Homo sapiens: one gene and its partner. The protein of the gene in region 1 interacts with the protein of each later gene in a pairwise test. Each region holds a gene or a part of one and is shown in the gene's direction. Other genes may lie near its edges.

Region 1 (4,426 bases):
TTTTTTTTTCTTCCTGAGATGGAGTCTCACTCTGTTGCCCAGGCTAGAGTGCAGTGGTGCGATCTCAGCTCACTGCAACCTCTGCCTCCCAGGTCCAAGTGATTCTCCTGCCTCAGCTTCCCAACTAGCTGGGCCTACAGGCCTATGCCACCATGCCGGGCTAATTTTTGTTTAGTAGACATGGGGTTTCACCATGTTGGCCAGGCTATTCTCCAGCTCCTGACCTCAGGTGACCCACCTGCCTTGGCCTCCCAAAGTGCTGGGACTACAGGTGTGAGCCACCACACCCAGCCCAAAGTATACTCTTAACCCAGGGTGGGCACACACTGCTACGATCAATGATGGTGTGAGGTAATAGTGAGTGGTGGGGACTGTGGAGGGAATATGGCCACCGAAAGGACGGTTTCACTTGGCTGCAGCAGAGAGACTGGTTCCATGAGGGTGTGCACTCATTGTTTCTGGACCTCCCATATTTTCAAAGGAAGCCAGAATGTGGAGTTTTAAAGTGAAATGCCCCCCAATATTTAAGTACTGACAATTTTTAAAAACAATGTAGGCCAAACAAAACACATAGGTGGGCCGGGCGCAGTGGCTCATGCCCGTAATCCCAACACTTTAGGAGGCCGAGGCAGGTGGATCACCTAAGGTCGGAAGTTAGAGACCAGCCTGACCAACATGGAGATACCCTGTCTCTACTAAAAATACAAAATTAGCCAAGCGTGATGGTGGATGCCTGTAATCGCAGCTACTCAGGAGGCTGAGGCAGGAGAATGGCTTGAACTGGGAGGCGGAGGTTGCGGTGAGCTAAGATCATTGCACTCCAGTCTGGGCAACAAGAGCAAAATTCCGTCCCCAAAAAAAAACAAAAACAAATTTTTTGTTTGTTTAGTTTGAGCCACATAGGTGGCTCCAAATTTGTAGGTAGCCTGTGGTTTAATATCTTTCTCTCCCGTTTAACTCAGCTCCACGGGGCACATGGCATCTCCCTCTGCTCATCACAATGTCTGGATCAAACAAATGAAAAACAAAAACATGATGGCCTCTCCCAGCAAAGCTCCAGGGTTGGAAAGAGTCCCCTGGCAGGGAATTGGCACCCCGTCGTGCCCATCCTCTCTCTCTGACTGCCTGCTGGAAATGCCCCCATCTCCCTTTGAGTCCTCCTCCCGGGCAACCCCTGTGACCTGTAACCTCTGTCCTGAAATCATCACAATGGCCAGAGTGGCCTCAGCTCAGGGCCTCTGTGACATCACCAAGGGCCTGGCACCAGGTGCCCAGTCTCCCAGTTGCGAGGGCAAGCAAACCCGTCATGAGCAACTCCCTTCCCCATCTCTGCTCACCATGTGGACGCTGAAATCGTCCCTGGTCCTGCTTCTGTGCCTCACCTGCAGCTATGCCTTTATGTTCTCTTCTCTGAGACAGAAAACTAGCGAACCCCAGGGGAAGGTGCAATACGGAGAGCACTTTCGGATTCGGCAGAATCTACCAGAGCACACCCAAGGCTGGCTTGGGAGCAAATGGCTCTGGCTTCTTTTTGTTGTTGTGCCGTTTGTGATACTGCAGTGTCAAAGAGACAGTGAGAAGAATAAGGTAAGGATGGCTCCATTTTTTTTACACCATATTGATTCAATCTCAGGAGTCTCAGGGAAACGGATGTTCTAGTGAGTCTAGACGGCACCGTTGGGTATAATGAACCGACCTCATGGTCCTGGGCAAAGCTGGCAAATTCACTTCCTGATGTATCCTTAGTGAAGACAATTGTCCCCAGATCCACAGATACTGGGACAAAGAGTGGAAAGTGACCTCTGCTTACTGGCTCACAGATTTTCTGGTTAGATGGATTTTTTCAAATGTAGGATAGATTCAAGAACTTATGGTGTGTTTCAGAAAGTCAAAATTATTCACAGGGCCAGATTCACTAGCCCCTGTTTTTTAAATTCTTGCTAGTGTTTGACTTACTACAAAATCCTGAGCTAAATGGAAATGATATCATTATCCCAACAAAATATGAGACTTGTGCTGAAGAGATAAAGATGTAAGGTAGTTTGAGCTGGTCCTCAAAGTGACCACAAACAACTCTTTCAGGTAGAAAAGGAAGGGGAGAGAAAGTGCGTTCTCCCCTAGAAAGACCCAGCACTTCATAATCCTGTGCCCAAACTGATGAGAGCAGGGATCGGCAAACCCTTCCCGTAAAGGGCCAGGGAGGGTGCGAATATCTTCAGCTTTGTGGGCAGTATGGTCTTCTTGCAACTACTCAAGTCTGCTGTTGTAACACGAACTGTGTCAAAACCAACAAAGTTCACAATATTACTGACCTTGAGTATCTTTCCTGACAGGAGCAGAGTCCTCCTGGCCTTCGAGGCGGCCAACTTCACTCTCCATTAAAGAAAAAAAGAAATGCTTCCCCCAACAAAGACTGTGCATTCAATACCTTAATGGAACTCGAGGTGGAGCTTATGAAATTTGTGTCCAAAGTGCGGAATCTTAAACGTGCCATGGCAACAGGTAGTGGCAGTAACCTCAGGCTTCGAAAGTCAGAGATGCCTGCAGATCCATACCATGTCACGATCTGTGAAATATGGGGAGAAGAAAGCTCTAGCTGAATGGATTTGTGTGTCAGGAGAGAAAAAAGTTGAGTGTTGACAAACTGTATGCAAACTAATAAAACTATTCTGAAGAAAAGAACTTCCATGTTTGAGAGCTTGCTTCTTTTCTTTTTTTCACTAGAAGAAAAAGTGAATGGGAGACCAGTAGCCATAGCAGTGATGGTTTTGTTTTTGCCTCTCTCACGTCATCTAGAGCTGTGGGTGGTGAGAAGAACACCGAAAGCTACATAATAGTACGTGATGAGCTCGTGCTTCTGTTCAATGGCCGCGGGTGGACGATGGAGCTAGGGAAATCTGGGATAAGATGCTGACGTCACTTCCATACAAACTCTTGCTCTCTATAGCATCTATTTGTGCAAGATGCAGAACTGCTTTTTATCTTTGATTTATTACAAAAGACAGCATTAATGATAGTTTTAAAATGGTAAAATGATTCAATTAGGAGGGGTGTATTCTAGAGTTATCTGATTCTCTCACCACAAGAGTCCTTTCACTCATTCCCTGTCAAAGGTTCCGTGTATATTGACTTTTCCTTCTACCACACTAGCAGTTACATTTGTCAATAATTGGATTTAAAAAAAAAAAAAGGGGGATGAGGCAGGAGAATCGCTCAAACCCGGGAGGCAGAGGTTGCATTGAGATCGCACCGCTGCACTCCAGCCTGGGTGACAGAGCGAGACTCCATCTCAAAAGAAAAAAACAAAAAGGAGAGGCCCGGCATGGTGGCTCACACCTGTAATCTTAGCCCATTGGGAGGCCGAGGCAGGAGGACTGATTGAGCCTAGGAGTTTGAAACCACCCTGGGCTACATAGTGAGACCCCATCTCTATTATTTTAAATTAACAAGAAAACGGAGAAAAATTCATTCATCCTATGCCATTGGAGTTTTGGATACAAGTGTGCTAACCAGGGGCTCCCAGATTAATTGACATGTTCTTTATCCTACTTATTCAAAATGTGGATATTTTACATGTTACTGTGGCTGATGGCATCTCTGTACATACTTAGGTGCTTGCCTAATGGTGATTTCTATTTTCCTCTCTCCTACAGTGTTTATTGATTGGAATTCTGCTGTAAGAAGAGCTGTTCCTTCGCCGATGATTGATGGATGGGTTTCTGTATGGACTTACAGGTGTGTTTTTTTTTTTGGATTATTTTCTGGCTCCACCTTTCCCACCTTTGGCGTTAGGAGCTGCTTCGGGTTGGCACTTGTGTTCTGTGAGCAAGCCCCTTCCTCTTTTGAGCAATTCCTTACTTTCTGGCAACCCAAGATGCTCCATGCTCATCTGGTTCATTGCCTGCCTTCATCCTGGAATCAGCCACTTCCCCAAGGGGCCAGGTTCCCTTTCTTGGAGAATGGTGACCTGCCCTCCTGCAGCCAGGATCATGACTTATCTTAAAATCCTTCATTTAATTCATCTGCAAAATGTCTCTTGCCACATGAACTGCAGGCCCACAGGTCCCAGGAATGAGTGCATAGGCATCTCTGGGGCCGGTACCCAGTTGACCAGTGCTGTCACCCTCACAAGCATCAAAGTCACCCAGGGCGCAAGGAAGACCAAGACCATGAGGCAGGAGGCCATGGCTTCTGCGGCTGCAGCAGAAGCAGGAGAGGGAGGCAGGGCAGACAGCAGCCCAGATGCCTGGGGCCTCAGGGGAAGGAGGCCCTGCCTCGAAGGCATAGGCGTCCCTCAAGGGTCCCAACCCCGGGCCCTGAAGGGTGGGCAGCATCTTCCCGGGAAGAATATGGTGGCTGGGCATGGTGGCTTATGTCTGTAATCCCAGCACTTTGGGAGGCCAAGGTGGACAGATCACCTGAGGTC
Region 2 (4,437 bases), about 25 Mb from region 1:
CTACTCGGGGGGCTAAGGCAGGAGAACTGCTTGAACCCGGGGGGCAGAGGTTGCAATGAGCTGAGATGGTGCCACGGCACTCCAGCCTGGGCAACAGAGCAAGACTCTGTCTTAAAGAAAAAAGAAAAAGAAAAGAAAGATAGACCTTACCATTATTGTCCTAAAAAGCACTTGGCTCTTTCCTGATCTATCTGCTGGCCTTGTGTATAAGTTAGCCATTACTATGTAATGTTCCACTCCAAAACTCAGTGGCTTAAAACATCAATCCTTTATATTTGGCTAGATTGCCCTGCTTGAGGCTGGAATGCCTGGGGCAGCTCTGTTTCTCACTGTAGATCTGTGAGTCGCCTGGAGTAGCTGTGCCCCACGTATCTCTCATCCTCCTTGGACCACTGGGGCATGTTCTTCTCATAGTGATGGCAGAGACACAGAAGGGCAAATGAAAATATTCATCATCTCTTAAAACCTAGGCTTACAACCGGCACACCGTCACTTCTGCCCACATATCACTAGCCAAAGCAAATCACATGCCAAGGCCAAAGTGAAGGGAAAATGAAATAGAGTTCTCCTAGGATGAGACCTTGGCAAATGTGTGAATTCAAGTAGGGATGAAGAAGTAGGGCCAAGATTACAATCTACCATTTCTTTCTTTCTTTTTTGAGACAGAGTCTCGCTCTGTTGCCCAGGCTGGAGTGCAGTGGCACAATCTCGGCTCACTGCAACCTCCGCCTCCCGGATTCAAGCTAGTCTCCTGCTTCAGCCTCCTGAATAGCTGGGACTACAGTGGCCAGCCACCACGCCCGGCTAATTTTTTGTATTTTTTTTTGTAGAGACGGGGTTTCACTGAGTTAGCCAGGATGGTCTCGATCTCCTGAACTTGTGATCCGCCTGCCTCGGCCTCCCAAGTTGCTGGGGCAATCTACCATTTCTTATAAGAAAGACCAAGCTGGGCATGATGGCTCATGCCTTTAATCCTAGCACTTTGGGAGGCCAAAGCAGGAGAATTGCTTGAGACCAGGAATTCGAGGTTCCAGTGAGCTATGATTGTGCCACTGCACTCCAGCCTGGGTGACAGAACAAGACTGTCTCAAAAAAATAAGTAATAATAAAAAAAAGACCACAACAATAATAAATGGCTTTTCTTTTGCTACCTATGAGGGTGCTACTTGTTCCTATTAAATATGTACTGTTAAAAGTAAGGGCTATGGCTTTCCTGCTCATTCCACTCCATGAATACTGACATTCTGGTTTCCAGTGGTGATGGCCATGGAGCTATTAAGGTATTTTCCCCTGCTCTGCCCTTCATTTGGTATTATAATGAATCATCAACATATGGGACATCCTAAGATGTCCTTGTTGCTGGGAAGAACCCAAGGCGCAGAGAAGTATCACTCCTTTTCTGTCTTATCTCTTTTTCTCTCTCTTTTTTTCTCATTAATGAAAAACAAATTAGAGATGAAAATATTTTTCCCCTTCTTGGTTCTCCAGCTGTATTATAAAATTCTTCAGAGGCAAGGCCGTATCTTCTCTTTGTTAACGTCCCTTCCCCCTCTCCCAGCCTCCTCAGGCAGTGTGGTTGATACCTTCCTTGCCTGCCTGTCTGATCTCAAATGACTGTTCCCGTTCTGGTTCACTGATCTTGGCTCTGCCATGCTCCTCAAGGCAATAAATACCAGTCTGGACTGCCCAGAATGGAGTCCTCTGTCTGTTTTACCAGTTGAGAAGCCTCCTATCCCTCCCTGATCATTCATCATTCATGAAGCTCCTTCTTCTGCTTTTGACTGTTACTCTGCTCCTGGCCCAGGTCACCCCAGGTAAACAGGATCTCCAGAAGGGGATGGGAGTCAGGAAACCTGATGCATGTTCAGAGAACTCTGGGGACTCTGACAGGTTGGGCTGGGAGAATGGCCTGGTAGAGCTCATTGAGGCCTTTAGGTAGTCTCTCTAGTTATGGGGAAGTTTGAGTTCTCTGGTACCAAATGGTCTTCCCAGTGCCCAGTACTTGACCATTCCAACCTTATCTCTGGTTAGCTCTGGAAAAGCTGAACGTGATGACCTGAGGATGGGATAGGGTGTAAAGAGAGAGACTTGGGTATGGAGTATAGAGAAAATGGGGACTTTTTCAAAAACATTCATTGAAAGGATTTGAATTTTGATGCATTGTTGCCTCTAGGAAAATGGTTCTCAAATTTCTGATTGTTTGAGGATTCTGATTCCACTTTTTAATGCAACCTCAAATCATCTGGGTTACCTTAGGTTGTAGGTTCCCTGGAATAGCTGTTCCTAATTCCCTTGACTGGTTGGGGCCAGAGAAAAGTCCCAGGATGTTGTGAAGAAGGCAGTATGATATTCTTGGGAGTTTTAAAGGTGCCCTAGAAGACTTACAGATGTTAAATGAGTTTATTTAATATTCCTGTCACCTTTCATTGATATGGTCAGAGGGGGTACCAAAGAACAATGAGAAAAGGTGGCTAATTGCTACTGGGCACCTGGGTACATTATAATATGGGGGAGATAAAACCCTTGGGAGAGGGGTCCTCTTCCCCCTCCCAAGGAGCTGGCCAAGGAGGGGAAGCTATCCAGTAGGTCCTATGCCACTGAGTTGGGGGGACTCTGGGGGTTCTAACAGGGGGCACAAGTGAAGGAAGAAAGCGTAGTGGTCTATAATCTCCCTTAAACTTAGGGGATCCTGTGTAAGAGCTTCTTCCCCACAGACCTCCTCATTTCCCTCCTACTCCTCTACTGGGCTTTAGCCTCTTCCTTTCACACCTTTCTGCTTTCTTTCAAAACTGACTCTATTCTCTTCTTCCCTTTTGTTTTCAGTCATGAAATGTTGGGGCAAGTCAGGCAGGTGCAGAACAACATGTAAAGAAAGTGAAGTATACTATATATTATGCAAAACTGAGGCTAAGTGCTGTGTGGATCCCAAGTATGTACCTGTAAAACCAAAATTAACAGACACAAATACAAGCCTGGAATCAACTTCTGCAGTCTGACACCTCTCTTCCAACCTTGAGTCTCAACATCATGGGATCCTGCAGTTCTATTAAATCATTCTTGGCAACACCCTGTTTCTGTCTGATAGTTCCACCTAGTTACATTTAGAAACAAGTAAATAAAGAAGAAAGGTTGTGTGCGTGTGTGTGTGTGTGTGTGTGTGTGTGTCCGGTGTGCATGTTAGGAAGAACAGGATGGACCAGTAGGTGGTAACAATCTAAACCTTGCAAATAGCTCCTAGCCTGCTGACCCATAGCTGGTCCAAGAGGGCATGAATTAAAGAATATTCATTATATCTACTTGATTCCTGTTTTCTTCTAGACCAGCACTGCCAATAGAACATTCTGCCATGATGGAAATATTTCCTGTCTATGTTGTTCAATATGGTAGCTACTAGCCACATGTGGCTACTGAGCACTTGAAATGTGCCCAGTGTGAATGCGGACCCGAAGTTTTAATTTGATTCAATCGAGCTTTAAATTTATATAGCTAAATGTGGCTAGTGGTGATTGTATTGTATAGCAATGGCTTTAGAGTCTAGGCTGAGGCATGCTGTGGGTCTCAATCTATGAGTATTTTAGGGGAGTCCAGGAGGCAAGTATGATGAACACAAGAACCCATTCTTGGCCCATGGCCTCTTTCTACTCCCACACCAAAGGTTATAACTTTCCCTTGATCACACCTGCAGTTCTGCCCCTCAGGGGCTCTAGGGCAATGCCTCTTGTGAGTCTTCCTCATGGTGGACAGTGCTGGCATCAGGCCATCTGTGGATCCTTGCTCCATCTCTTTCCATTCCCTCTAGTTGTGGCCATGGGACATTAAACTGCTGGCTAATCATTTTGCAGGACAGATCCTGAACTGAGACGACAGGAATTTTACCACATTCAGCCCCATGATCCCAAGTATCCCCAACTCTTGCTACTTATCTGACTAATGTAAAAGAACTTGATTCTTTATCCTGAGTTGAAAAGTTCTATTTGGAGTCACCTGCCTCCTATTCAGCCCTTTCATACTGGAGTCCTGACCTGGCTTCAGCCCTATGTCCCCAGTTCACCTTCCTGATGACAAACTTCAGCCTCAGAGTCAGTGTCTAAGTATCATCAAGCTGTCTAGGGAAGAGCGTTCGAAGCAGGATCAGAAGATCTGGAGTCAAATCTTTGCTTAATCGCATGTCAGCTGCATGACCCTAGGCAAGCCATTTAACCCTCTCTGCTCTATTTTCTTGTCTCTAAAATGGGGAACTTTCCTACTCAAGTCATAGGGATGTCATGAGAATTAAATGAGATAACAGACAGGAAAGTGCCCAGCACAGAATCTAGCCCACATTCAGTTCTTGATAAATGTAAGTAGAATCTAGGTAGATCTCATTTTGTAATTTGCTACTTCTAGGCTCTGCGTAGCAATTTTTTGCCTGGAAAAAGTTAAATCCTCCTTCACTAC

What was found. Proteins that work in one complex are often made in the same cells at the same time.
Region 2: the proteins of FAM209A (region 1) and DEFB121 interact in binary tests that used the Homo sapiens proteins (3 or more experiments, as listed by UniProt).

The regions. Positions count from the first base shown.
Region 1 is NC_000020.11:56,523,471-56,527,896, forward strand, and holds FAM209A (protein FAM209A precursor), read left to right. Parts: upstream 1-1,273; 5' UTR 1,274-1,338; coding exon 1,339-1,587; intron 1,588-2,312; exon of another isoform or gene 2,313-2,333; coding exon 2,334-2,600; 3' UTR 2,601-2,682; downstream 2,683-4,426. UniProt on the Homo sapiens protein: May play a role in sperm acrosome biogenesis.
Region 2 is NC_000020.11:31,403,472-31,407,908, reverse strand, and holds DEFB121 (beta-defensin 121 isoform 1 precursor), read left to right. Parts: upstream 1-1,693; 5' UTR 1,694-1,756; coding exon 1,757-1,814; intron 1,815-2,823; coding exon 2,824-2,996; 3' UTR 2,997-3,064; downstream 3,065-4,437. UniProt on the Homo sapiens protein: Has antibacterial activity.